4 linked regions of the Homo sapiens genome follow. The protein of the gene in region 1 interacts with the protein of each later gene in a pairwise test. Each region holds a gene or a part of one and is shown in the gene's direction. Other genes may lie near its edges.

Region 1 (6,965 bases):
TTGAGACAGAGTCTGGCTCTGTCGTCCAGGCTGGAGTGCAGTGGTGCGATTTCGGCTCACTGCAACCTCCGCCTCCAGGGTTCAAGTGATTCTCCTGCCTCAGCCTCCCTAGTAGCTGGGACCACAGGTGCACGCCACCACGCCCGGCTAATTTTTGTATTTTTAGTAGAGATGGGGGTTTCACCATGTTGGCCAGGCTGGTCTCGAACTCTTGGCTTCAAGTGATCTGCCGACCTTGGCCTCCCAAAGTGCTGGGATTACAGGCGTAAGCGACCATGCCCAGCCGCTGAGTGAGTTTTTGATTTCTGATAAATTGGGATTTCTCCTTCACAGTCTGCAAAGTCTGCAACCTGAGTACTGAGATAATGGACAGGGACAGCTTACCAACTTATTTTATTTTATTTTTATTTTTTTGAGGCAGGGTCTCTCTCTGATGCCCAGGCTGGAGTGCAGTGGCACAGTCTCCTTTCACTGCAGCCTGGACTTCCTGGGCTCAAGGGATCCTCCCACCTCAGCCTCCAGAGTAGCTGGGACTACAGACTCAAGTCACCATGCCCAGCTAATTTTTGTATTTTTTGTAGAGAAGGGGTTTCACCATGTTGCCCAGGCTGGTTAGCAACTTTACTGTTTGTTTCTCTTCACCTATTTGTGACAAAGATTAAAATTCCTTAATCTGTCACAGGAGTAGAGTTTTTTGTTTGTTTGTTTTTGTTTAAAAAAAAAAAAAAAAGCTTGAGCTCCCAACAGCACCAACTGGCTGGGAGGGGCAGGAACGTTACTGCGACCAAAGTGGGAAGATGCCCTGTGTGGGTGAGGTTGTTAGGGTAAAACGGGAGTTTTGCAAATGATAGGATGGGCACTTACACAGAATGAAAATGCAGAGTTGCAAATCCTGCCTCAGGGAGCTAGAAAGGGGAACTGTGTGTGATGAAAGGCGGGTGGGGAGAGGTTCAGAAGATCTAGTCCTGGAGGCCTCATAATTTGCCGCTTAGCTTCTGCTTTCAGCATCTGCTGTGACCAGATGGTGTGCAGTGATCTCTGGCCGGCTAAGCCAAGAAGTGAATAAAACTTCTTCGGTCTTTGTATAGACCTTGTCTGGTAGGGAACAAATTGTCCTGTAGCAATTAGCAATGAACAATTTCTTTTTCTCTCTTTTACTGGAAAAATCTTATCTTTGATATCTAAGTGAACTATGTTGATATCGTGCTTAAATATTGATTGAGGATTTTTCCCTAACCCTGAAATCCTCCCTCCCTGCTACCCCAACCAAATTTAGCCATCCTGAAAGGTTTTTCTTATAAATAGCTGGACTTCTATCCTCAGTGATTCTTCAACTTGAAGAAAAATACCATTGAAAGAGGGAAACCTTTCATGAATTTCTTTTTTCCCATGTTATTTGGAAATTGTTTTTATGATATTATTTAAGTAATATAAATTACCACAGAAGTATAAATAGATGTACCTTTTTTCTTTTTTTTTTTTGAGACAGGGCCTCACTTTTGTCACCCAGGCTGGAGTACAGTGGTGTGATCTCGGCTCGTTGCAGCCTCTACCTCCAGGGCTCAACCCATCCTCCCGCCTCAGCTTCCCAAGTAGCTGGGACTATAGGCGTGCACCCCCACACCCGGCTATCTTTTTTTTTTTTTGTAGAGATGGGGGTTTGCCATGTTGCCTAGGCTGGTCCCAAACCCCTGAGCTCAAGTGATCTGCCCACTTTAGCCTCACAAAGTGCTGGGATTACAGGTGTGAGCCACCTCGCCCGGCCTAAATCTGTGTTCCTATATTTGTAACTTCCATATAGCGATATCAAATCGCATTTATTTATAAATCAAATTCCAAAAAACTACAAAAGTTTAAAAAATTAAAATTATTAATTTATTTTTTTCAGGGGAGGAAAAAGAGTATGTAAATTTGCTTTACATAACTGACTGAAAAATATATTCAAGAAATAGTAAATATAATTTAATACAGTCTCATGTGCCCTAACATCATTAACTTAATGTGACAAGTGATATATGAATGAAATAAAATTACTGGAAACATGAACATTGTGCAGTCAGGTACAGGGCAAACTCCTTTACATTGAGCACCCTGCACCACCATTTGCTGAGCTATGACTGAAGTCTCCCACTATTTTCCTTTTGTTTTCTTCATTCCACCATGGTGGAATGAAGGCGTTGCTTGGCTGTCACTTGGCATTAATACCACACAAAAGCCTGTACATGAATGTTCACGACAGCATTATTAATAATAGACAAAAAGTGGAAACAACCCAAATGTTCCTCAACAGATGAATGGGTAAACAGAATGTGGTATATTCACATAATGGAATATTACTCATCCATAGAAAGAAATAAAGTTTTTTTCTTTTTTCTTTTTTTTTTTTTTGTTTTAGAGACAGGATCTGGCTCTGTCACCCAGGCTGGAGTGAAGTGGCGCCATCTTGGCTCACTGCAGCCTCCATCTCCTGGACTCAAGGAATCCTCCCGCCTCAGCCTCCCGAATAGCTGTGACCACTGGCACACACCATTACGCCTGGCTAATTTTTGTGTTTTTGTAGAGGCGGGGTTTCACCATGTTGCCCAGGCTGGTCTCGAACTCCTGAGCTCAAGTGATCCGCCAGCCTCAGACTCCCAAAGTGCTGGGATTACAGGCGTAAGCCACAACTGTGCCTGGCCAGTAATGAAGCTTTGATACATGCTACAATATGGGTGCGTTTTAAAACATTATGCTAAGTGAAAGAAGTCAGTCACAAAAGACCACATAATGTATGCTTCCATTCACAGTGTATATGAAATGTCCAGATTAGGTAAATCCATGGAAATAGAAAGTAGAGTAGTGGTTGCCAGGGGTTGGGAGGAGGGAGGTGGGTAATAAAGAGTAACTGCTAATAGGTATGGGGTTTCTTTTCGGGGTGATGAAAATGGCCTAAAATTATGGTTAGGCTGGGCGCGGTGGCTCACGCCTGTAATCCCAGCTTTGGGAGGCCGAGGCGGGTGGACCACTTGAGGTCAGGAGTTCAAGACCGAGACCAGCCTGGCCAACATGGCGAAACCCCGTCTTTACTAAAAAAAAAAAAAAAAAAAAATACAAAAATTAGACGGGTGTGGTGGCGCACGACTGTGATCCCAGCTACTCGGGAGGCTGAGGCATGAGAATCACTTGAATCTGGAAGGCAGAGGTTGCAACGGGCCGAGATTGCACCACTGCATTCCAGCCTGGGTTACAAAGTGAGACTCTGTCAAAAAAAAAAAAAAAATTAGTGCTGATGGTTGGCACACTTTGAAAACATAAACAAAGCCGGAGGCAGTGGCTCACACCTGTGATCCCAGCATTTTGGGAGGTCAAACCAGGAGGATCCCTTGAGCTCAGGAGTCCAAGACCAGCTTGGGCAACACAGTGAGACGCTCGTCTCTGCAAAAACTTTGAGAAAATTAGCCGGGCGTGGTGGCAGGCACCTGTGGTCTCAGCTACTCGGGAGGCTGAGGCGAGAGGATCACTTAAGCCCAGGAAGTCCAGGCTGCAGTGAACTGTGAACTCCAGTCTGGGCGACAGAGCGAGACACCTCAGAAAAAAAAAAAAAAAAGAAAGAAAAAACCGAAAAAGACCACTAGAGGGTACATGTTTAAAGGACAGATTTTATGCTATGTGAATATATTTCAAGTAAAAATTAAATTAACAATTTTAAAAATTGCAGGAGTACGCAGCGCTTATAGAGGTCCCTGCATAACCTAGGGAGCGGGATCGAAACCCAGCAGCACCAAGATACTCTAAGAGCAGGACCAGCCACTGCCCCTTCCGCAGGACCGCCATCCTCGCCACGCCTCCGGGGGAGGGAGGTCCTGGCTTGGAGAGCGATGATTGGCCGAGTTCTAGGACGAGGCGGAGCGAAAGGGGGCGCGACAAGTCCCTCCCGGCGCAGCGAAACCTTAGCTCGCGAGATTTTGTTGGTTCCGCATTTCGGGTCTGCGAGGTGGGGTAGGCGGGCAAGGCGGGCGCCGAGGTTTGCAAAGGCTCGCAGCGGCCAGAAACCCGGCTCCGAGCGGCGGCGGCCCGGCTTCCGCTGCCCGTGAGCTAAGGACGGTCCGCTCCCTCTAGCCAGCTCCGAATCCTGATCCAGGCGGGGGCCAGGGGCCCCTCGCCTCCCCTCTGAGGACCGAAGATGAGCTTCCTCTTGTGAGTGGGGTCGGGCCGCGGGCGCCGGGCCTGCGGGCCGAGGTTGTGGGGGAGGCCTCCCCGGACCTGAGGCGAGGGCTCGGCCTGGGGGCCGAGGCGGGGGCGGGGTAGCTGGCGTTTGTTTTGCCTCTGTTCGGGTCCGCGGGGGAGGCCGAGATGTTGGGAGAGGCCGACAGAGATGAAGGTCGAAGTAAAGGAAACGGAGCGTGAAGGCTGGGGAGTAGAAAGGCCCCGGGGCCGTCGCGCCTCCAAACTTTTCCGCCCGAGCGCCCCCGAGGGCGGGGAGACGATCTGGGGGCGGAGCCGCGAGCCCCCAGTTTCTCTTGTCTCGAGCTTCTAGAAACCGTCCTTGCCGACTTAACTCGTTGCTCGGTTATAGGTCCAGTTTCATTATTGTCGGTGTTAAATGCCGCCCCAGGAGAATGTGCGTTGCCGCAGTTTGAGAAGCTTGAAGTTAAGATGCTGGCCTTGGAGTCGGATCGTTCTGTCCAGTTCTGATTCTGCCCACTTACTGGCTTTGATTTTAACCAACTTCTCTTGTCCTCGGTAGAATCCTGTGTTTTTAATCATTATGTAATATACCATACAGCATTATTATATAGTACATTGCAGTATTATAAATAATTTGGAAAGTTAAAACAAATTCATAGTCCCATTGCAGAAACACAGTATTGCCATTTTAGTGCACTACAGCAATTAACTTGATAGGCATACCTTAGAATCTCATTTTAGAGATAATGCCTGAGCCCAACCAAACAAGGCTAAAATGAAAAAGCTTGTAAATTCCCTGATGATTCTTATGCACATTAAGGTTTGAGAAGCATTGCTCTGGCACAGTATTTTTTATTCTCAGGTGTCTCTCTCTACCTTGTATATTGCTTAAATGTGTGTTTTGTGATTGAATAATTATCCAATTTTAGTTATGGATGTAATCCACATGCTTGACATTTTTATTAAATACAATATAAAAACACTATATAGTTTTTTTTTTATTTTTTATAACCAGAGTTTACCCACTTTATTGTGAGAAACTGGGATTCCTTCCAGTATTTACTATTATAAAATAGCACTACTCAGAATATGTTTATCTGCGTCTCATTTTCCTTCCTTTGGGTTATTCTCGTAAATGAATGGTCTCTAAAATACGATTACCTTGTCAAAAAGCCTGTATGATTTAGATTTAACTTCCATATTAATAGAAGTATTCCTCCCTCCTCCACTTTTTTCTTACGAGTTGATATTTAATTAGTGAATGCACAGTTGCTTTGTGGACCTTAATACGAGACTTTTTCTTTTTTTTTATTTTTTGAGACGGAGTTTCGCTCTGTCCTCCAGGCTAGAGTGCAATGGCACGGTCTCGGCTCACTGCAACCTCTGCCTCCGGGGATGGCACGGTCTCGGCTCACTGCAACCTCTGCCTCCCGGGTTCAAGCGACTCTCCTGCCTCACACTCCCGAGTAGCTGGGATTACAGGCGCCGGCCACCACACCTGGCTCATTTTTGTATTTTTAGTGGAGACTGGGTTTCATCATGTTGGCCAGGCTGGTCTCGAACTCCTGACCTCAGATGATCCACTCCCGCACTCGGCCGAGACTTTCTTTTTTTAAAACTTGGCCTTCTTGATGGACACTTGAGTTGTTCCCGCTTTTTGGCCATTATGAATAATGCTGCTGTGAACATATGTGACAGGTTTTTGCGTGGATGTATGTGTTCATATCTCTTGGGTATATACTTAGGAGCAGAATTGCTGGCTTAAGTGGTAACTATGTTTAACCTTTTGAGGAACTGCCAAACTTCAAAGTGCTGCACCATTTTACATTCCCATAAGTACTCTATGAGGGGTCCAATTTCCCCACACCTCTCATAGCACTTGTTAATTTTCTTTTTTTTTTTTTTTGAGACAGAGTCTTGCTCTGTCGCCCAGGCTGGAGTGCAGTGGCTCAATCTCGGCTCACTGTAAGCTCCGCCTCCCGGGTTCACGCCATTCTCCTGCCTCAGTCTCCCAAGTAGCTGGGACTACAGGCGCCTGCCACCATGCCTGGCTAATATTTTGTGTTTTTAGTAGAGACGGGGTTTCACCGTGTTAGCCAAGATGGTCTCAATATCCTGACCTAGTGATCCGCCCACCTCGGCCTCCCAAAGTGCAGGGATTACACGCGTGAGCCACTGCGCCCGGCCTTGCCTGTTTTTAAATTGGGCTGTCTTTTTGAGTTGTAGGACTTCTTTATACATTCTAGATACAAGTCTTTATCACATCTATGATTTGCAAATATTTTCTTCCTTGTTCAATATAGTTTTTTTTATCATGTTAAAAACTTTTCAGATATGATTTTTAGTGTTTTCATCATTCTTTTTTACCTCCTTTTTTTTTTTTTTTTTTTTTTTGAGACAGGGTCTCACTCTGTTGCCTAGGCTGGAGTGCAGTGGTGCGATCTCAGCTCACTGCAACCTCTGCATCCCGGGTTCAAGCAATTCTCCTGCCTCAGCCTCCCAAGTAGCTGGGATTACAGGCACTTGCCACCACGCCCGGCTAGTTTGTGTGTGTGTGTGTGTGTGTGTGTGTGTGTGTGTGTGTGTAGTAGAGGCGGGGTTTCACTATGTTGGTCAGGGTGGTCTCAAACTCCTGACCTCAAGTGATCCACCCGCCTTGCCCTCCCAGAGTGCTGGGATTACAGGTGTGAGCCACTGCACCCGGCTCTTTTTTACTTCTTAATCAGTCTTATTTAAATTCCAAATTACTCAGGTAAAGTAAAAGTCCATAGTTCTATTCCATTCCTCTTCCTAGAAGT
Region 2 (7,972 bases), on another chromosome or scaffold:
AGGTACTTATTTGCCATCCATATATCTTTGGGGAAGTATCTGTTCAAATCTTTTGCCCAGTGTGGTTTTTTTTTTTTTTTTTTTTTTTTTTTGAGACAGGGTCTTGCCCTGTCATGCAGGCTGGAGTGAAGTGGCGCGATCTCAGCTGACTGCAACCTCTGCCTCCTGGGCTCAAGTGATCCTTTCATCTCAGACTCCCGAGTAGCTGGGACCACAGGAATGCATCACCACACCCAGCTAATTTTTTTATTTTTTGTAGAGACGCAGTTTCGTCATGTTGCTGAGGCTGGTCTTGAACTCCTGAGCTCAAGCAATTTGCCAGCCTCGGCCTCCCAAAGTGCTGGGATTGTAGGTGTAAGCCACTGTGCCCAGCCTTACACAGATTTTTAAGATTGAGTTGTTGACCTTCTTCTTATTTATTGTTTTAGAGACAGGGTCTCGCTCTGTCACCTAGGCTGGAGCACAGTGGCACAATCATACCTCACTGAAACCTCCCAACTGCTTCACTCAAGCACTCCTGCTGTCTCAGCTTCCCAAGTAGCTGGGACTACAGAGGTACACCATCATGTCTGGCTAATTTTTAAATTTTTTTAGTTGAGACAGGGGTCTCACTATGTTGCCCAGGCTGGTCTCAAACTCCCAGCTTCAAGCAATCCTCCCACCTCGGCCTCCCAAAGTGCTGGGAATACAGGCTTGGGCCACCGTGCCTGGCCCCTTCTTATTGAACTGTGAGTGTTCTTGTTATATTCTAGATTAGGTCCTTGGTCTGACATATATTTTGCAAATTTCTTCAGTCTATGTCTTGCCCTTTAAATTTTGTAGCAACATCTGTCCCTTACACAACTTCATTTGTCTTCATAGCCTCATCACGCCCTGACACCCGGGTTCACTGTCCATTTCCCCACCCACTACGCTGTGAATGGCAGATGGACCTGACAGCAGTAACTTAAGCATACCCTGAAAATGACCCTTTGGTCTAAGAAGAAAGTGTGTTTGGAGTCTTGAGCTAAGGAATCTGGGAGTGGCCAACTAGGAGTCTCACTTCTTTTCTATGAAGAGATCTGAACCCCTGGCCTGTTGGTCCCTTGGAATGCAGGCCGTACAGGGGATCCAGGCCCTTTGTTGTGGCTTAAATGGAGGTTGCTAGGTGGAGAGGGCTCCACAAAAATTGCTATATAAATTGCATGCTTTTTACAAATGATAGTGTTTCTCCTGTCCAGGCCACTGCCACTGGATCACTTTTGTATCTAAGTCCTCAATAAACTCCATGTCTCATTCACTGGCTCTGGGTCTCTTCTTCGGCCTCTTGGACATGGTGCCATTCTTATTGGAGTCAATAGGGGCCTGGCGCACCATGTTGTCAGCTCCACGAGGGCAGTGCTGGTTTTCCCGCTATGTCCTCGGCTCCTTACACAGCGGGTGTTCAGCAGATATTGTTCAGTGCTCCTGCCAGTCCTCCCGGACATGGCGTGTCTTGGTGGCAGGTGACATGGACTGGTGAGTGGAGACCTCAGAGCAGCCTGTTGCAAAACTTCCAGGCCAGCAGTAAGGGGTCCTGAGCTGGGGCACGGGTGGGGTCTGGGGAAAGGAGACGAGCTGACGGAGAAGGAGGGCCAGAGAGACTTTTCCAAGGTGCAGGCTCCCCTCTTCCCTTCCCCTGCCTGCCATACACACCCCGCCTGCTGCTCAGCAATGGCATCACAGCCCCTCCTGCCAGCCTGCCCGGATGCAGGGAGCAGCAGGAGAGTTTCTACAGGAAATAGACATGGGCATGGGTGGCATGTGGGGAGGCTCTAAAAGGCTTGATTAGCTCCTTTACCATGAGTGTGTTTACAGCATGTATGTGTAATGACACACACAGTGTGAGGGTGTATATTGCATGGTGCGTGTTATCTCTGTGGGGTGTGTTCTTGTACACCGGTGCAGGGCATATATGTGTTATGATGTGGGTTTGTCCAGAGAATAAAGCAACAACTTCCTCTCCAGGATGGGAGGACTGTTATGTGGTCTCTGGTGTCCTTTCTGTCCATTCTTTAGAGCATCCCACCAGGGACCCTGCCTGTGAATCTGTTGGCTCTCTCTTTTCTGACAGTGCAAAACAAAGCTCCTTCTGCAGCCAGACAGACCCTGGCAGCAATTCCAAGCAGATGCCCACTTACCAGCTCGGACTAGTTGCTCTAACGCCTCTGAGCCTGTTTTTTGGTCTGTTAAAGGAGATTAATAACACCTACCACGCAGGGTGGCAGCGACAGTGAGGAAAGGTATGCCTATGAAGAGCTTAGAATAGCGCCTGACACACAGTAGGTGCTCAATTCACAGTAGTGTATATGCCCACACACAGGTATGTACATTCCAAATGCACCAACGCCCCTCAAGATACCCTCAATACACAAATAGATTGAGTCTGGGCTGGATGCGGTGGCTCATGCCTGTAATCCCAGCACTTTGGGAGGCTGAGGTGGGAGGATCACTTGAGCCCAGGAGTTCAAGACCAGCCTGGACTGGTGGAGACATGGTGAGACTCTGTCTCCATGAAAAATAATTAAAAATTTAAAAAATATATTTTAATTTGAAAACTTTTAAAAAGGAAAGATATGGACTAGGTCTGGTCGCTGGGCTCCTGACGACAAGGCTTGCTGTGCACATACATCTTCATTAGTGTGAGCTGTGCTCACGTCGGCTGCGTGGAGGCTGGGACAGACACGGACACCCCACAGTGCCCAGTGATGTGTCACACCCACACATCAGCACCACGCTGACCTCTTGCCAACCTGCCATATCTGCCCCCTTATCTACTCAGAATGGTCAAGGTGCCCAGGGGGCAGTGTCTCTCAGTAATTTTCCACAACCTGAGAAAAAGCTGTGTTTCTCTCAGATGTGGGGAAAAGGGGAGCCCTTGTTCCTGAGGCATCCTTCCTGCTGTCCTTGCTCTTGTAAGGCTGACTGGCTGAGTTTTTGGGTGGAGGGGCTGAGGCTCCCAGCCTATCTCAGATGGTGCTGAATGTGGCTGGAGGTTACGATTGCTTTGGTCCCACCACCCCTCAGAGGATGCCCTGCGCAGAGTCTTGGGTCTGACTGACCTCGGCAGCACCCAGCCCATAAGGTCCTGTTAATCAAAATCCTTGCTGGGGCCTGGGAGCTCCATGAGGGAAGGGGCCACATCTCCCACAGGTCTCGGGCTTCAGCACCCAGTACAGGAGCAGGTGTTCATGAACTGAATTATATATCTTTTGCATTAAAAAAAATTTTTTTTGAGACAGAGTCTCGCTCTGTTGCCCGGGCTGGAGTGAAGTGGCATGATCTCAGCTCACTGCTGCCTCTGCCACCCGGGTTCAAGTGATTCTCCTGCCTCAGCCTCCCGAGTAGCTGGGATTACAGGTGTCCGCCACCACGCCCGGCTAATTTTTGTATTTTCAGTAGAGATGAGGTTTTGCCAGGTTGCCCAGGCTGGTCTGGAACTGCTGACTTCAGGTGATCCACCTGCCTCAGCCTCCCAAAGTGCTGAGATTACAGGCGTGAGCCACCGGCCTTTTTTTGCATTTAAGTCGCACCTCCAGGGGTTGGGGAGCTGTATGCAGTGGTGGTTACATGTGTGGGCTGAGGCATGGAACTACACAACCTCTTGGGCCTGAGCTTCCCCTTGTTAAACTGGAATAACAATGAAGACGCCTTCCTCATAGGGTTGTTCCAAGAACACCATGAAGGAACGCATGCAAAGTGCTCAGGGAGTGCCTGACCCCACATACAGAGCACCCAGGGGCTGCCCTCTTCATCCCAGAGTCACTGCTCCCACTGTTTTCTGGGCTCTGGCCCCCCCTAAAATTTCACAGGCCGCTAACACAACACTACCTTCTGTCACAAAATGAGAGCTTTCTGGTGGGCTAGGGTAGGGGGAGATATTAACAGCCAACTTTAAAATCAGGCAGGAAAAAAAGGTGCCAAGGAGACAGGAAGTAATAAATGACTCCAGGTTGGGCAGGGCAGGCTGGGAAGAGGAAGTGGATTGGGTCTTGTTTAGGTAAAAGACTTCAGTGGCAGACAAAGGAGGAGTAATAAGATCGCTAGGGGGCCCGTGCCCAGCCCACCCACGCACAATCTCAGTCCTCGCAATACCCACAAGGTAGGTGCTAGGATCACACCCTTTACGGACGCGGCACCTGCGACAGGGATGCGCGAGGAGTCAGGGGGCCTCGCCGGATCGAACCTAAGCTGGGGAAGAGTATTTCTTGTATTTTTAGGAGAAATTCTCAGCCTCGGGGAAGAGTATTTCTTGATGAGGGAAGAGCGCGGGGAAGACACTCACGCACGCACAAACATGTGGGCGGCCATGGTGTGCCCAGCGCCGTGCTGGCTTCTGGGAACCCCCAGTGGACAAGACGGACAAGGTACCGGCTCTCAGGGGAAGTGGGAGCCAGTCACAAGCGTACCTAATTTCGGAGAGTGACAAGTACTCTGAAAAAGAAAGAAGGTAGGGCTGGTGACTGGCCAATTTAAGCGGGCAGGAGTCTGCTGGGGGACGGAGACCAGCCTCAGGTCTGGGTTGGGGACAGAAGCTGTGCCTAAGTGTGGTGCAGGATGCAGTTGCAAAGGAGCGCTTCCGATCGCACTTGATGCTCGCCACGTCCCTGCAAAGTGCTCCCGCCCCCTTTCTGCAAATGAGGAAACGGGACGCGCGGCTCGCCGGGCCAGGTAGGGCTAGGACGCGGACTCTAGGCCCAAGCGCTCCCCAGCGCAAGCCCTCCCCCGCACATCCGACCGCGCCTGCGCTGGAGACCCCGGGGGCGTGGCCTCCCCGGTGGGCGGGACCGTGGTCACCGAGGTGGGCGGTGCCAGAGGATCTGGCGGCGGGGCGGGGCGGGGCGCGCGTCCTGGCTTCGCCCTTCCCCGGGGCGGGGCCTCCGGGGACCGCGGGGCCGTTGGTTTCGGGACGGAACGTTCACGCGGCTGGGGCGGGCGCGCGGGGGAAGGGTTTGCGGCGGCGCCGCTGCCGGCTAACGCGGAGGGGCGCCTGGAGGCGGCGTGGCGTCCGCTCTGGCTCCGACTCCGGCTCTCGCTCTCGCTTCTAGCCCGCGTGCCTGCGCAGTCCCCTCCCCGAGAACCATCCCCTTGCCCCGCCCAGCGTCAGGGGTGCGCGGCCGCCGAGAGACCCCGGAGGCGTAGCCGGCTGCGGAGGCGAAGAGGTGGCAGCGCGAGCTGGGACCAGCGTCTCGGAGGCGCCGCAGGTGAGGGGGCGGGGCGGGCCCGCGGTCCCTGCATCCGGAGCCCCTGGGGACCCCGAGATCCTCAGGATCCGCCCCGGCCCCGGGGCCACCCCAGGACTCCCTCTCAGCTCTTCCCCTGGAGCCCCTGCCCCCGAGACCCCCTCAGGATCCGCCCTGCCCCTCCAGGCCCGCGAACCCCGAAACTCCAAGATTTTCTCTGGACTCCGAGACCCCCTGAGGACCCCGGCCGCTAGTGGGCCCTGAGAACTGTTGGTTCCGGAAACTCTCGAGGTTCCCTTGGGACTTGCTTCCAGCAACCTCCTCAGAAGCCCCCAGGCCCGGGGCATCTTCCTGTGGGGAGCCGTGGTTCCCAGTGTCCTTAGCCCCGCGAGACCCCGGGTCCCCGTGCCGCCCACCCTGAGGCTCCCTCTCCGACCTGATCTCAGGGCTAGGTTTCTCCAACTTGAGGTCCCTGGACCTGCGGGGCGTGGGTGGAAGTGTTCCCAGGTCTGGTGATAACTTAAGACGGTAACAGCGCGCCCGACGACCACCTCCTAAGCTGTGGTCCCCGCGCCTGCAGGTGCAGGGCCGGGTTTAAGTTTTAATGTTCTGCTGAGACTCAGGTGGCCCCACAGGACAGTCTATAGAGCAGGAGACCTGAGGTGGCCGAGGGCGGCCGAACCGGGGAGGGAGCGAGTTAGGGCACATGGGGACGCTTTTAGGTTGTCTCCTCCTTAATTTTTTCATTCAAGGAACTAACATTTTGTTTTTGAATGCCTGATAGGCTCCAGGAATTGACACTGGAAATAGAGATGAGACGGTCCCTGCTGTCAGGGCCTAGGGACCTGGGGCATAAGACAAGTAGGTCGTTTTTATCTGGAGGAAGCTGTGTCGTCGCTGGCAGGGAACCCATCTGGGTGGGCATGGGATTCTGGGAAGGGGTGGGTGTTAAGGAGGGCGTCTTAGGAGTCGTGGGGAGGAGATGCTAAGCAGCAGGTGAGCTGATTCTTGAAGGTTGAGCTAGAGGAGAAGTTTGCCAGGGTCATTCCAGGCAGAGTTTCAGGGGACAGCCAGTATGTCAAAAGGCAGAGAGGCTGCCACGGCACACAGTGTTGGAAGGCGGGAGGTGTGGCTGGAGCACACCTAATGAAGGTGGCGTGGGAGTGAATGCTAACTGCGGAGAACCCAGCTTTGCTCCCGGAGGCCCACCGTGCCCTTGGCCCTTTCTTGAACGACTGCACCTGCCATTGTCCTGAGAAATGATCCAGCTGAGCTGAAGGAAGGTGGGAGGTGGTCAGGGGGAGAAGTGAGGGAAGTGTCTCGCTAGAGACCTGGTATGGGAGAAGCTGGGACTTTTGCAGAGTACTGGGTTTGAGGTGGGAGTGACAAGAAAGAGGGTGTGATTCTGAGAGCCAGTCAGGACCAAAGCATGCCCAGTTTAAGCTGAGTGGAGGGTTTGGTACTTAAAGGGAGTGGGTGGCCATTGAAGGGCTTTGGGAGGAGAGGGGCGGGAGTTGGTGTGTTTTTGAACCATCCATGTGGCTGTGGTGGGGAGACTTTTTTGGAGGAAGCAAGACCCTATGAGAGATGGGGGTGACCTGGACCAAGGCGGTGGTAGTGGGGGACTGTGGCTTTCTGGAACGGGGCTAAGCTTCTGAAAGCCCAGGCCCAGAAGACTGGTTCCCGCTCTTTCCTGTCTGAGCCTGGGGTCTGAACTTTAAGTGAGGTTTTTGTCCTATTACCGTAGGGTCTGTGGTCGCCTTAGTGCTTCATGGTGACTGTGTGTGTGTGCTTCACCATAGTCTAATGACCACACAGGACGCAGTGGGGCAGGGTGGGGAGAGGCTGAGTCTCAGAGGTGGGCCAGGACCATGCTGGGCTAGGGGTCCTGAAGAGAACCTGTGTGTGGAAAAACCACCCATCGTGCTTTTTCTATTATCTCACTCAACGACAATCAACAGAGATGTCTTCTGTGACCAAATGTGAGGAGAGGTTTCTCCCTGCCACCAAGCGGGCAGTCATTTGTGCAAGAGACACCAACTGGGTATCTTCCAATTCAGTTCTGATACTACCTGGAGATAGCATCAAATCTCGCAAGTTGAGGGCTCAGTCCCCCAAGACTGCCCTCCACCCCTTCGGACACCAGTCACAAGCCTGAGCCTCTGGAACTTCTGATCGATCAGCTTCAAGTTGGGGTTCCCATGACCCTTCCTTAGGTTTGATTAATTTGCCAGTCGCGGTGGCTCACGCCTGTAATCCTAGCACTTTGGTAGGCCGAGGAGGGTAGATCATCTGAGGTCGGCAGTTCGAGACCAGCCTGGCCAACATAGCAGAACCCCATCTCTACTAAAAATACAAAAAATTAGCTGGGCATGGTGGTGTGCACCTGTAATCTCAGCTACTCAGGAGGCTGAGGCACGAGAATCCCTTGAACCCGGAAGGCTGAGGTTGCAATGAGCTGAGATTTTGACACTGCATTCCAGCCTGGGAGACAGAGCAAGACTGTCTCAAAATTGCTATGGAACAGCTCACAGAACTCAGGGAAACACTCAGGTTTACTGGTTTGTTATGAAAGATATCGCAAAGGACACAGATGAGAAGATGCGTAGGGTGAGGCGTGGGGGATGCTGTGCAGAGCTTCTGTGCCCTCCCCGGGGTGTACCATTCTCCAGAAACTTCGGCATGTTTGTATTTATCTCTCAGGAAGCTCTCAGAACCCAGCCCTTTTATGCCTTTTATGGAGACGACTTAAGCATGTAGGCATGCTTAAT
Region 3 (7,022 bases), on another chromosome or scaffold:
TTTCACCTATATATTTGTGTAGAAGATTGTGGGGAGGAGGGATTTTTTTAAAAAAGACATTCATATCTTCCTTTAGGTATGTTATCTGATTTTGAAAAACATTATGAAAGCCTCAAAAAGCATTTTTACAAAGCAATTTATCAGAAAATTAAAACAAATATACTGAGAATAAGTTGATCACTTAACTGTCAATGAATATCAAATAGTAAACACGTGATTGGAATCAGATCAGTAGGAGACTTTCTAGAGTAATCAAATTTTTGCTGAATTTAGAAAGTCTAAGAGGCCCAATTCTTCCCTACTAAGATTGTGACCACCAATTGGCTGTGTAGGTGCTGGTTAAGGACATGGACGCTTACTGTCTATGATCCCAGTTCCACACTAGCAGCTATGTAACCTTAGACAACTAACATAACCTCTTTTGTACCTCAGTTGCCTCATCTGAAAAAATCATGATATTAGCACCTACTTCATATAGTTGTTGTGAGGATTAAATGAAATTATTCATTTCAAGTGCACAGAATAAAGCCTGGCACATAGTAAGTACTCAATTAATATTATTAGCTGCTATGATGATTACTAATATTATCATTAGATTCAAGGACAATTCCAGTTACCTTTCCTGCAGATCCTGAACCGGCTGGGGGCTCCAGAGAGGAACAGTAGGGAAGAATGTCTGTCCTGAACATCTGTCCCTTCTGCAGCCCCCATTTTCCTCTCCGCCCTGGCGCACCCAGCCTCAGCCCTGCTTCCTGTGGACGTCAGGCAGTGATGCTCTTGCCCTCAGGCCTAGATAAAGGTAGGGTAGGCAAGGCCCAGCCACTGAGCTCACAGAAGGCAGCACCAGGCATCCAGACTGGCGGGGGCACAAGGTATGGTGCCCAGCATACAACACTGCTTTGTACATGGCTATGAAGGAAATGTTTGTGAAATTTAACTGAATTTTTTTAAAAGATTAGGCAATGGACAGTAGATATCTCCAGCTCCAGCTTTACCTGCCCTCTTGTTCTCTCCTCCAAGGTAGCGGGGACTCATCTCTGGAGAAGGAGTTCCTCGGGGCCCCAGTGGGGCCCTCGGTGAGCACCCCCAACAGCCAGCACTCTTCTCCTAGCCGCTCACTCAGTGGTAAGTGTAACCTCCTACCACCTCCTGGCAGTAGGCACCCCCTGTTGCATTTGGCCTTCAATTCACCTTCCACTGGCAACCATTTCCCCATCGTCACCTCCTGCTGGTCTCCTGCTTAGTCTCTAAGAGCAATGAGGAGCCCAGTGTCTAGGGTTTTTCTGGCTTCTGAAAGGAGAGTGAATAGTCAGTCACTGGCAGACTAGGGTGGAATTAAAAGAGGTATGGGTGGGATTAAGGTAAAAGTTTCAAAGAGAAATTATGGAATTAGAGAAGCAGGTAGATAGAAATGGTCATCAGATGGAGTTAGATAGGAAATAGAGAGTAGAAGGACCTCCCCATCTCCCCACAGCTCATTCTCCTACCCAGACAGGGTCCCCATGACTGCCTCTCCCCAGCTGGCCCTAGATCTGTGACATTCTCTAAATGGTTGGAGTAGCCAGGAATGTAGGTCGGAGCTAGAGCCAAAGCCTTCTCCTCAATGGTTCCTCCTTCCTTTACCCCTCCTGCCCTGCCTCAGAGTTTTATGGAGGTGGAGGGGGTAGAGGGATTCAATCTAATGAGGTGGGAGGGAACTGTAAGCATGTCTGTCTTCCAGGTTTGCTCTCTTTGGCCTGTTGTCCCCCTTCAGTCTTCCTAGATCTGTTTTCCCGCCACTGTTAACTTGCTGGCTTCCTGCCCAGGGCCAAGCCAGACATCTTTCTTCATGACAAGAGAGTAGAGAAAAAAGCTCCCCTTAGTCGCCTCCTCTCCTCAGCGACAGAAGACATCCTATGTACCCCCAACTTTTTTCTTTTTGAGATGGAGTCTTGCTCTGTCGCCCAGGCTGGACTGCAGTGGCGTGATCTCAGCTCACTGCAACCTCCGCCTCCCAAGTTCAAGCGATTCTCCTGCCTCAGCCTCCGAAGTAGCTGGGATTACAGGCGTACACCACCATGCCCAGCTAATTTTTGTATTTTTAGTAAAGACAGGGTTTCACCATGTTGGCCAGGCTGGTCTCAAACTCCTGACCTCAAAAGAATCCACCCGCCTTGGCCTCCCAAATTGCTGGGATTACAGGCGTGAGCCACCACACCCGGCCCAACTTTTTTCTCTTGAAGCCTATTTGCCTGGTGGGTGGGAGAAAAGGTTGTCTCAGGTTCCAGTAGGATTCTGATATCAGCAGCAGGGATACTAGGGTGTTAGTTCCATTTAAGGCTTGAATGTCTCAGGGCCTAAAGACACCCTCTTAAACTTTAAGAGTGCCATTCTGGGCCAGGCGCAGTGGCTCACACCTGTAATCCCAGCACTTTGGGAGGCCAAGGCAGGCAGATCACCTGAGGTTGGAAGTTCGAGACCATCCTGACCAACATGGAGAAACCCTGTCTGTTCTAAAAATACCAAATTAGCTGGGTGTGATGGTACATGCCTGTAATCCCAGCTACTCAGGAGGCTGAGGCAGGAGAATCACTTGAATCTGGGAGGTGGAGGTTGCGTCGAGCCAAATTCGTGCCACTGCACTCCAGCCTGGGCAACAAGAGCGAAATTCCATCTCAAAAAAAAAAAAAAAAAAAGAGTGCCATTCTGGCCTGGGAGCAGCTTCCCCCTTTGCCTCTCTCTATTCTAAACACCATCCCACCCCTCAGCCAACTCCATCAAGGTGGAGATGTACAGCGATGAGGAGTCAAGCAGACTGCTGGGGCCAGATGAGCGGCTCCTGGAAAAGGACGACAGCGTGATTGTGGAAGATTCATTGTCTGAGCCCCTGGGCTACTGTGATGGGAGTGGGCCAGAGCCTCACTCCCCTGGGGGCATCCGGCTGCCCAATGGCAAGCTCAAGTGTGACGTCTGCGGCATGGTCTGTATTGGACCCAACGTGCTCATGGTGCACAAGCGCAGTCACACTGGTAAGTAAGCCAGAGGGGCTCTGGGAGGAGCTCCCAGGGTGGGGTTGAGAGGCAGGGGCAGTGCTGGGACAACAGCAGGTATGGGGCTGGAGGAGGTCATGCAGGGAGTGGGTAGCCTCAGAAAGGGAAGGGTCTCACCCAGCACATTTTCCAGCTGACAAAACGAGGCAGGGTGGGGGTGGGTACAGAATTTGAATTCCCCTCAATACCTTTAGTTTCCTGGCACTCTCCTCAACCGCTGTTATAAAGAAAAGGTGATATTTTTCTCAGTATATGAGGGAGGGGAAAGTGTAGACTCAAGAATGAGCCAATGGTCCAATAGGGGTAAGACTCCTGGGTATTCTTTGGGCCCTCCCATCTAATAATTAAAAAACAACAACAACAACAACAACAACAAAACAGAAAACAAAAGCCTTCTCTTCTCAGCTTCCTTGGGCCTTGGGCTCCTAGGGCAGAGTGGGCCCTGTGGGGCTCAGTTTTTGGTAACAGTCTTTTGGCCTCGTGTTCCAGGCCCCTCTCCCTGCCACACACCTCTAATCCACACCTTCCCCAGGGTAAGACCCCAGGGATCCCCAAGGGATCTTCATAAATCAGGGTTTGTGTGCATTGCACTTCTGCCCGTCAGCAATGTGTTCAGAGCACCTTCCCTTGGGCAAGGTAGGGCAGAGGGTGGGTGATAGGTTCAACCTTCAAAGTTCCTCACATGCAGTCCTCTGGGATTTGTTCTTTCACTTGCAGGTGAAAGGCCCTTCCATTGCAACCAGTGTGGTGCCTCCTTCACCCAGAAGGGGAACCTGCTGCGCCACATCAAGCTGCACTCTGGGGAGAAGCCCTTTAAATGTCCCTTCTGCAACTATGCCTGCCGCCGGCGTGATGCACTCACTGGTCACCTCCGCACACACTCAGGTCAGTGTCTGTCCAGTGGGAGGAGGGAATGAGGCTCCAACACACCCAGTATGTAGAGCTCAGTGACTTCTCTTGTATTTGGGGAGTTCCAGTGTCTGTCATTGAGGAGGGGGGAGCATTTACAGAGCAGATAGGGCCCCCTGCCTCTCTCACCCATCCTCTGGGCAGCAAGGCTTCATGGGAAATTTGGGAGACACCTTGATGGGGTATTTTACATCCACCATATGGATGTAAAATCCATCTACTTGGAGCAAAAGGAATAGGAGCAATGTTCTTGGCTGTTAACGGTCACCCTTGGCCTGGCGCGGTGGCTCACGCCTGTAATCCCAGCACTTTGGGAGGCCAAGATGGGCGGATCACGAGGTCAGGAGATCGAGACCATCCTGGCCAAAATGGTGAAACCCTGTCTCTACTAAAAATACAAAAAAAAAAAAAATTAGCCGGGCATGGTGGCAGGCACCTGTAGTCCCAGCTACTTGGGAGGCTGAGGCTGGAGAATGGCGTGAACCCGGGAGGCGGAGCTTGCAGTGAGCTGAGATCGCGCCATTGCACTCTAGCCTGGGCGACTGAGCGACACTCAGTCTCAAAAAAAAAAAAAAAAAAAAAAAAAAAAAGTCACCCTTCCCTGACTTTTGTTTGTTTTTTGTTTTTTCAAGACGGTGTCTCACACTGTTGCCCAGGCTGGAGTGTAGTGGTGCAATTTTGGCTCCCTGCAGTCTTGATCTCCTGAGCTCAAGCCATCCTCCCACCTCAGCTTCCTGAGTAGCTGGAAGGATACTGCCACACCCAGCTAATTTTTCTATTTTTTTGTAGAGACAGGATCTCCCTATGCTGCCCAGGCTTGTCTTGAACTCTTGATCTCAAGCAATCGGCCCACCTCAGCCTCCTGAAGTACTGGGATTACAGGCGTGGTGTCAGCCACTGTGCCTGGGCTTTCCTGACTTTTATATTTTAGATTGTTGATGCCACAATCCATGCCCTATTACCCCCAACATCTAAGCCCCTGGGAAATCCCTCCTCTCACTCCCATCTGCCTCAGGCCCCACACCTGTCATCATCTTCACCCTCCTTCCTCCCACACCACCAGAGGTCTTGAGCAACCAGTCTGTCCTCTCCTTTACTTCCTTCTGGCTCCTGGAAATATCCATAGCCCTCTCAAATTGCAAAAAAGGGAGCCTAGGACTTCCAAATAGGAAAAGAGTATCCTATTTCTGTTCCCTATCCCAAGAGGTTGTCACCTTCCCAGAGGCAAGAGAAAGTCCAGAGGGTACCTAGAGATCAATGTTTGGAACAGTGCTGGGAAACTGGATTAACAAGGTTTTCTAGCCCAGTCAAGACTGTTTGAATCAGTATCTGTCTGAATCAGCTGGACAGATAGCACTTTTTAGGCATTTTACTAAGCTTTAGGCTTTTGGCTTGGACTTGGGAAGAGGCCAGGAGCTGAGCTGGCAGGAAGGAGGGAGCTCAAGATTGGGAAAAGGCAGGAAGAAAGGAAGGGGGAAAGAATTAGTAGGGTCTGTCCTTGGAAACTTTCCTGGCTATTTTTCTCTTCTTAAACTCTCCTGAGCCAGGATTTAAAGGGACAGAGCAATCATTTCATCACCCTCTACTTTCTCCATCCACTTACCTTGTTCCAGGTTCTCCCACCTTGTAATTGGGACCTCTTTATCTCTATGTATGTGGAGAAACAGGGAGAAAGATCATCGTTGATACATGCTTTATATCTACAGAGCATTTCACTTGTGTTTCTCCATGTGATCCTCATAACAATTCCAAGGTAGATGTGATTATCCCCATTTTGTTGACAAGGAAAATGAAGCTGTTGGGGGGAAAAATGAGTTGCGGGTCACATAGCTATTCTTCAGCCTAGCTGGAACCCCATCAAGGTCCAGTGCCAGAAATACATACTCCTTTTCCTCAGAAAAGGGGCTGCTCCCCCTGCTGGTTTGGAACAAGGATGGCTTGGCCCCTAGAATTCTTACCAACTACACAGTGAGGTGAACTGGGTAGATTTTGGATGTTGATCTGTAGATTATTAACAACAGAAGCAGACACAGATATACTGTCAGGTCCCATCTCTGTGAAGTGCTTTCTGTTGCAACCCCTATTATAAGAAAAAAGAGACTGGATGCATGTTCTCACTCATGTGGGAGCTAAAAAAGTTGATCTCATAGAAGCACGGAGTAGGTTGGGTGCAGTGGCTCACGTCTATCATCCCAGCAGTTTGGGAAGCCAAGGCGGGTGGATCGCTTGAGCCCAGGAGTTTGAGACCAGCCAGAGCAACATAGTGAGACTTCGTCTCTACTACAAAAACAAAAACAAAAACAAAAACAAAAACTAGGTGTGGTGGCACACACCTGTAGTCCCAGCTACTCAGGAGGCTGAGACAGGGAGGATCACTTGAACCTGGGAGGTCAAGACTTCAGTGTCCTGTGATCATGTCATTGCACTCCAGTCTGGGTGACAGAGTGAGACCCCATCTTGGGGAAAAAAAAAAAAAAGCCAGGCACGGTGGCTCACGCCTGTAATCCCAGCACTTTGGGAGGCCAAGGCGGGCAGATCACCTGAGGTCAGGAGTTCAAGACCAGCCTGACCAACATGGAGAAACCCTGTTTCTACTAAAAATACAAAATTAGCCAGGCGTGGTGGCGCATGCCTGTAATCCCTGCTACTCGGGAGGCTGAGACAGGAGAATTCCTTGAGCCCAGGAGGCAGAGGTTGCAGTAAGCCAAGATCGCGCCATTGCACTCCAGCCTGGGCAACAAGGGTGAAACTCCGTCTCAAAAAAAAAAAAAAAGTAGAGAGTAGAACAGTGGTTACCAGAGGCTGACTGAGAAGGGTTGGGAGTAGGTGGATAGCGAGAGGCTGGTTAATGGGTACAAGATTACAGTTAGATGGGAGGCATAAGTTGTAGTGTTCCACAGCATAGTAGAATGACTGTAGTTAACAATAATTTATTGTATATTTCAAAATCGCTAGAAGAGATTATTTTGAATGTTCCCAATACAAAGAAATGATAAATGTTTGCTGGGCATGGTGGCTCACGCCTGTCATCCTAGCCTTTGGGAGGCTGAGGCAGACAGATCATGAGGTCAGGAGATTGAGACC
Region 4 (7,022 bases), on another chromosome or scaffold:
ACCACCATGCCTGGCTAATTTTTGTATTTTTAGTAGAGATGGGGTTTCACTATGTTGGCCAGGCTGGTCTCGAACTCCTGACCTCGTGATCCACCTGCCTCGCCCTCCCAGAGTGCTAGGATTACAGGCGTGAGCCACAGCACCTGGCCACCTCTGCTCTTTTGGAGCTGACGTTGTGGCGGTGACAGGCAAACGGGTTAGCTGATAACTAGGATAATTTCATGAAGAGGTGAACCAGTGAAGCAGTTAAATCAAGGTAAAGGGTGGCTGGGCGCAGTGGCTCAGGCCTGTAATCCTAGCACTTTGGGAGGCCAAGGCAAAAGGGTCGTGTCAGCCTAGGAATTTAAGAGCAGCCTAGGCAACATAGCGAGACCCTGTCTCTTAACAAACAAACAAACAAAAACAAGGTAAAGTAGCCTGGGCGCGGTGGCTCATGCCTGTAATCCCAGCACTTTGGGAGGCTGAGGCGAGTGGATCACCTGAGGTCAGTAGTTCGAGACCAGCCTGGCCAAAATGGTGAAACCCCGTCTCTACTAAAAAATACAAAAATTAGCCAGGCGTGGTGGCGGGCACCTGTAATCCCAGCTACTTGGGAGGGTGAGGCAGGAGAATCGCTTGAACCTGGGAGGCGGAGGTTGCGCTAAGCCAAGATCGCGCCATTGCACTCCAGCCTGGGTGACAGGAGTGAAACTCTGTATCAAAAAGAAATAAAAAAACGAGGTCAAGTAGTAAGAGAAGCGGTAAGAGTGACGGGAACAGGAGTCATTGACCTCTTGGGAGAGGAGACATTGGAGGTGGTGATGATTTGCTGAAGCAGCCACACACGTTCAGCTTGTGAGGACAGCAGTTGTTAGGCAGGGGATGAGGGAGGAAGCTGGCAGATCTGTGCAGGTGAGAGGTACCTGTGGCCTTGGGCTCATGGAAGTGGGAGGTGATGGGATTCTAATGTGCTTGGGTACAGTTTACAAATACAACCTCTCTTAGTTTGCCCAATACCTCCAAATTCCTGGGGTGGCACACCTGAGGTTCAGGTGGCATGACTGAGCCACAGTCACACATCCCCACTGTAGGATACCACCACGGTTGGGTTAGGTTCCAGCACATGGCGGTCCCGGCCTGGCCTCTTGGTCCCACCTCACCTGGTGACTAGTGCAGACCACTCTGTTCTTGCCTGTTTCAGGCAGCGGAGGAGGAGAAAGAGATGGACCTCCCGGACTCGGCCTCGAGGGTCTTCTGCGGCCGCATCCTGAGCATGGTGAACACAGATGATGTCAACGCCATCATCCTGGCCCAGAAGAACATGTGAGTGGCGGCTGGGGGACCTGAGCGTGGGAAGGAATCCACAGGCTGGCCAACATTCTTGTCTTGCCCGCCCCTACCCGGGGCCCACACTGGTGATAAAATGAAGGAAATGAGCAAATCTGTCGCTGGCTCCAAAGTAAATTCCTTCCCGGCCTGGAGGCGAGGCCTTGGCACAGGAAGCAGGGCTTTGGGGAGATTTTGCAGCTGCGGATGGCTTGGCGGGGGCCGCAGGGGCTCCTGTCCCGAGACCTGGGGTGGGAGAGTTGAAGGACCAGAGGGGGCCACATGCAGGTTTTTTTGTTTATTTGTTTCTTGTTTTTGAGACAGAGTTTTGCTCTTGTTGCCCAGGCTAGAGTGCAATGGTGTGACCTTGCCTCACTGCAACCTCCGCCTCCCGAGTTCAAGCGATTTCTCCTGCCTCAGCCCTCTGAGTAGCTGGGATTACAAGCATGTGCCACCATGCCCAGCTAATTTTTGTATTTTTAGTAGAGACGGGCTTTCATCATGTTGGTCAGGCTGGTCTCGAACTCCTGACCTCAAGTGATCCACCCGCCTCGGCCTCCCGAAGTCCTGGGATTATAGGCCTGAGCCACTGTGCCTGGCCTTTATGCAGGTTTTATGCTGGTGCGCCTACTTCCTGGTGAAGGACTAGTCTCCCAGAGCCCAGGCTGTGTCTGCACAGTGCCCAGGGTCTCTTGGAGCGGACATAAAGGCCTCTTGTCCTCACTGGGGTTTGGTGCTGTGGCTGCTGAAACCTTGCCCTAATTCAGGCCTGCCCTGTGGGGAAGAAAGGCTAATACCAAGCTTGTCCAACCCTCGGCCTGTCCAACCCTTTGAATGTGGGCCAACACAAATTCGTAAACTTTCTTAAAACATTACGAGATTTTTTTTGTGATTTTTTTCTTTTTCTTTCTTAACTCATCAGCTGTCGTTAGTGTTAGTGTATTTTATGTGTGGCCCAAGACAATTCTTCTTCCAATGTGGCCCAGGGAAATGAAAAGACTGGACACCACTGGGCTAATACAGTCTTGGAGTGGAAGCACAGCCTCCCGCAGCTTTGTTTTTGTGTCTCTGAGCCAGAGGCTCTTCTCAGCTGTCACGACACAGTACAGACCTGATTTCCTTACCTTTTCTCCCAGACCCAGAGCAGCTCCGAGTCTCAATAGTACCTGTCTCTCTCCTGTGTCTTTTTTTTTTTTTTTTTTGGGAGACAGAGTCTCACTCTGTCGCCCAGGCTGGAATGCAATAGCATAATTGCTGCTCACTACATCCTCTGCCTCCTGGGTCAAGTGATTCTCCTGCTTCAGCCTCCTGAGTCGCTGGGATTATAGGCATGCACCACCATGCCTGGCTGATTTTTTTTTTGTGACGGAGTCTCGCTCTCTCGCCAGGCTGGAGCACAGTGGCGCAATCTCAGCTCACTGCAACCTCTGCCTGCTGGGTTCAAGCGATTCTACTGCCTCAGCCTTCCAAGTAGCTGGGACTACAGGTGTGCGCCACCACGGCCAGCTAATTTTTGTATTTTTAGTAGAGACGGGGTTTCACCACGTTGACCAGAATGGTCTCAATCTCTTGACTTCGTGATCCGCCCGCCTCAGCCTCCCAAAGTGCTGGGATTACAGGTGTGAGCCACCGTGCCCGGCCCTGATTTTTTTATTTTTAGAAGAGATGTGGTTTCACCATGTTGGCCAGACCTCAAGTGATCCACCCTGCCTCAACCTCCTAAAGTGCTGGTCTCCTTTTTTTTGAGACATAGTTTCGCACTGTCACCCAGGCTGGAGTGCAGTGGCGCAATCTCAGGTCACTGCTATGTCCGCCTCCCGGGTTCAAATGATTCTCCTGCCTCAGCCTCCCGAGTAGCTGGGATTACAGGCGCCCGCCACCATGCCCAGCCAATTTTTGTATTTTTGGTAGAGACGCGGTTTTCCCATGTTGGCAAGGCTGGTCTCGAACTCCTGACCTCATGATCTGCCTGCCTTGACCTCCCAAAGCGCTGGAATTGCAGGCATGAGCCCCCATGCCCGGCTGGTCTCCTGTTTTTTTAGGTCAGATTCAGACCTGGCTCTGGGAAACTTCTAGACTGAGGGGAGACAAAGCCAGACACAGACCCTCCTGGCCCTATGGTGTCAGGGCTGGGCCAGAGGAACAACCTGGGGCTAGTGGAATTAAAAGAGTCTGATTGGGCCAGGCACGATGGCTCACTCCTGTAATCCCAGCACTTTGGGAGGCCGAGGTGGGTGGATCACGAGGTCAGGAGATCGAGACCATCCTGGCTAACCTGGTGAAACCTCGTCTCTACTAAAAATACAAAAAATTAGCCAGGCATGGTGGCGGACGCCTGTAGTCCCAGCTATACTCGGGAGGCTGAGGCAGGAGAATGGTATGAACCTGGGAGACGGAGCTTGCAGTGAGCCGAGATCGCGCCACTGCACTCCAGCCTGGGTGACGAAGCAAGACTCTGTCTCAAAAAAAGTCTGACTGAATAGAGGTAGACAAGGCTACATGAGAAGGACACACTTGAGTAGGGTTTTGAAGGTTGAATAGGAGTTTGCTAGGTGGCTCAAAGAGTAGGTAGAACTCTGCAGGACAAGGGAACAGCCCATGCAAAGGTTGTGAAGCAGGCAAGGGCTTGGCATGAACAGTCTTCTGGGCCAGGTTGGGCAGGGCCCTGAAGCTGGGCAGTGAAGCTCATGCCCTCTCTCCACCATCAGGCTGGACCGCTTTGAGAAGACCAATGAGATGCTGCTCAACTTCAACAACCTGTCCAGTGCCCGCCTGCAGCAGATGAGCGAACGCTTCCTGCACCACACGAGGACCCTAGTAGAGATGAAACGGGACCTGGACAGCATCTTCCGCCGTATCAGGTGGGTGCTCAGTGCCACCCCAGCCCAGCTGACCTCTGCCTCCACCTCCCCATCTGAGCCTCAGTTTCCTTCACATACCAGGGTAAAGGGAGATTTCTGTTTGTTTTACAAGGCTTCACTGCGCACTTAAGTGTCTGGGACAATTCCAACCCTGGGATAAAATCTTGACGTAAGTTTATTTACTGATTGATTAATTGATCGAGACAGAGTTTTTTTTTTTTTTTTGGAGACGGAGTCTCGCTCTGTTGCCCAGGCTGGAGTGCAGTGGCGCGACCTCAGCTCACTGCAAGCTCCGCTTCCCGGGCTCACGCCATTCTCCTGCCTCAGTCTCCGGAGTAGCTGGGATTACAGGTGCCTACCACCACGCCTGGAGAATTTTTTGTATTTTTAGTGGAGATGGGGTTTCACCGTGTTAGTAGTCAGGATGGTCTCGATCTCCTGACCTCGTGATCCAGCCGCCTTGGCCTCCCAAAGTGCTGGGATTACAGGCGTGAGCCACTGCGCCCGGCCGAGACAGAGTCTTGATCTGTGGCCCTGGCTGGAGTGCAGTGGCGTGATCTTGGCTCACTGCAACCTCTGCCTCCTGGATTCAAGCGATTCTTGTGCTTCAGCCTTCTGAGTAGCTGGGTCTACAGACATACTGTACCACACCCAGCTAATTTTTGTTGTTGTTGTTTTATTTTTGAGGTGGAGTCTTGCTCTGTCGCCCAGGCTGGAGTGCAGTGGTGCAATGTCAGCTCACTGCAACCTCCGCCTCCCAGGTTCAAGCGATTCTCCTGCTTCAGCCTCCTGAGTAGCTGGGACTACAGGCGCATGCTGCCACGCCCAGCTGATTTTTTGTATTTTAGTAGAGACGAGATTTCACCGTGTTGCCCAGGCTAGTCTCAAACTCCTGAGCTCCAGCACTCTGCCTGCCTCGGCCTCCTAAAGTGTTGGGATTACAGGTGTGAGCCTAATTTTTGTATTTTGTGTAATTTTTGTATTTTTTTAGTAGAGACAGGGTTTCCCCATGTTGGCCAGGCTCATCTCGAAGTCCTGGCCTCAGATGATCCATCCACCTCGACCTCCCAAAGTGCTGGGATTATAGGCATGAGCCATCATGCCCAGCCTTGCAGTTTATTTATTCTTAAAAAATGTAACACAGTGCGGCTGGGCGAGGTGGCCCATGCCTGTAATCCCAGCACTTTGGGAGGCCGAGGCAGGCGGATCACGAGGTCAGGAGATCAAGACCATCCCGGCTAACATGGTGAAACCCCGTCTCTACTAAAAATACAAAAAATACTAAAAATACAAAAAATTAGCTGGGCGTGGTGGTGGGCGTCTGTATTGCCAGCTACTCGGGAGGCTGAGGCAGGAGAATGGCATGAACCCAGGAGGTGAGCCGAGATCGCGCCACTGCACTCAAGCCTGGGCGACAGAGCGAGACTCCGTCTCAAAAAAAAAAAAAAAGTAACATAGTGCTAGACACATAATGAAAAGGCAGGAATGGCTGGGCACAGTGGCTCATGCCTGTAATCCCAGCAGTTAGGGAGGCTGACGCAGGCAGATCACCTGAGGTCAGAAGTTTGAGACCAGCCTGGCCAACATGATGAAATCCCGTCTCTACTAAAAATACAAAAAAATCAGCTGAGCATGGTGGCACGTGCCTGTAATCCCAGCTACTTGGGAGGCTGAGGGAGGACAATCATGTGAATCCGGAAGGTGGAGGTTGCAGTGAGCCAGGATGGCACCACTGCACTCCACCCTGGGCGACAGAGTGAGATTCTGTCTCAAAAAAAAAAAAAAAATTTATCAGAGAAGAGGCCACATGTAAGAAGCAGCCTCGCAGGGGGAGCCCCCAGCCAGTGCCTAGGCTCAGAGCACCCAGAGTCTAACTAGTTGGGGGTTGGTGCCTACCTTGGGGCTGGAGGCCGGCTGGTGGGCGACTGTCAGGGCCGTGGCTGCTGGGCCGAGCACCTAGAGAGAGTGAAGATGTGAGGTGATGAACAGTGTGGGGGTTCTCACTCCCGTCTCCCCTTGCCCTCAGCTGGCAGCAGGGGCTTGTGGCCAGCACCAGGCCCAGCCTACCTGCTCAGCAGGTTAAGCCCTGTGTGCCTTCTCTCCCCTGCAGGACGCTGAAAGGGAAACTGGCCAGGCAGCACCCAGAGGCCTTCAGCCGTAAGTGTCACGCAGGGTTCCTGCTCCCGAGCACGTCAGCACTCTCCACCCAGGGCAGGCTTCTGGAAGGCCACCTTGGGGCCTGATACTGAGACCAGGCTGTAATGGGCAGTGGGTCTGGGGAAACCTGGGGTGGGGGCAGGGTCAGGGTGCTGGCCTGGTCCTGTCAGCAGCTGGCAGAGTGGGCACTAGGACGGGAGTCCGTGCCCCGTGGGGAGGCCGCACAGGAGAATGTGGATAAGCAGCATGACAATCCTTATCCCTGTGTGCATTATGAGCCATCTCAGAACAGAGCACGGGCTCATGTGACACCAGCCCCGACATCGTCTCGCCTTCCCTGAGCCCCAGCTTCGAGGATCTGTCCCATGTCCAGCTGTTACCCACAGTCACCCATGGGGTGGGGACTGTGAGTATCACCGTTTCATGGAGAGGGAAACAGAGGCCCAGAGGGGCAGGACTTGAGTTCGCATCTGTCTGGCTAGAGAGCTCGCGTGTTCTCTGGGGTACCATTCCATGTTGCCACCACCTTAAAGGGCTCTGCAGGCTGAGCCTGGGTTCACACCATCTGTTGAAAAGGCCGACAGCTCTCCATCCCAGGGCCTCCAACAGCAGTTTACAGAGCAGGGAGCTGGGCTGAGGGGAGGTCATATACCTAGCCCAGGTAGTGCAGTGAGCCAGGTTCGCCCTCAGGGCTCCTGT

The links.
Region 2: the proteins of MOB1A (region 1) and FAM118A interact in binary tests that used the Homo sapiens proteins (3 or more experiments, as listed by UniProt).
Region 3: the proteins of MOB1A (region 1) and IKZF4 interact in binary tests that used the Homo sapiens proteins (3 or more experiments, as listed by UniProt).
Region 4: the proteins of MOB1A (region 1) and KXD1 interact in binary tests that used the Homo sapiens proteins (3 or more experiments, as listed by UniProt).

The regions. Positions count from the first base shown.
Region 1 is NC_000002.12:74,175,872-74,182,836, reverse strand, and holds the start of MOB1A (MOB kinase activator 1A), read left to right. Parts: upstream 1-3,957; 5' UTR 3,958-4,162; coding exon 4,163-4,176; intron 4,177-4,522; exon of another isoform or gene 4,523-4,582; coding exon of another isoform or gene 4,583-4,722; intron 4,723-6,965. UniProt on the Homo sapiens protein: Activator of LATS1/2 in the Hippo signaling pathway which plays a pivotal role in organ size control and tumor suppression by restricting proliferation and promoting apoptosis.
Region 2 is NC_000022.11:45,304,962-45,312,933, forward strand, and holds the start of FAM118A (protein FAM118A), read left to right. Parts: upstream 1-4,972; 5' UTR 4,973-5,222; intron 5,223-7,972.
Region 3 is NC_000012.12:56,024,034-56,031,055, forward strand, and holds part of IKZF4 (zinc finger protein Eos), read left to right. Parts: exon of another isoform or gene 1-962; coding exon of another isoform or gene 963-1,020; coding exon 1,021-1,125; intron 1,126-2,747; coding exon 2,748-3,008; intron 3,009-3,746; coding exon 3,747-3,914; intron 3,915-7,022. UniProt on the Homo sapiens protein: DNA-binding protein that binds to the 5'GGGAATRCC-3' Ikaros-binding sequence. Transcriptional repressor. Interacts with SPI1 and MITF to repress transcription of the CTSK and ACP5 promoters via recruitment of corepressors SIN3A and CTBP2.
Region 4 is NC_000019.10:18,560,856-18,567,877, forward strand, and holds part of KXD1 (kxDL motif-containing protein 1), read left to right. Parts: intron 1-1,180; 5' UTR 1,181-1,201; coding exon 1,202-1,302; intron 1,303-2,910; exon of another isoform or gene 2,911-2,924; intron 2,925-4,013; coding exon 4,014-4,166; intron 4,167-4,278; coding exon of another isoform or gene 4,279-4,339; exon of another isoform or gene 4,340-4,354; intron 4,355-6,276; coding exon 6,277-6,323; intron 6,324-7,022.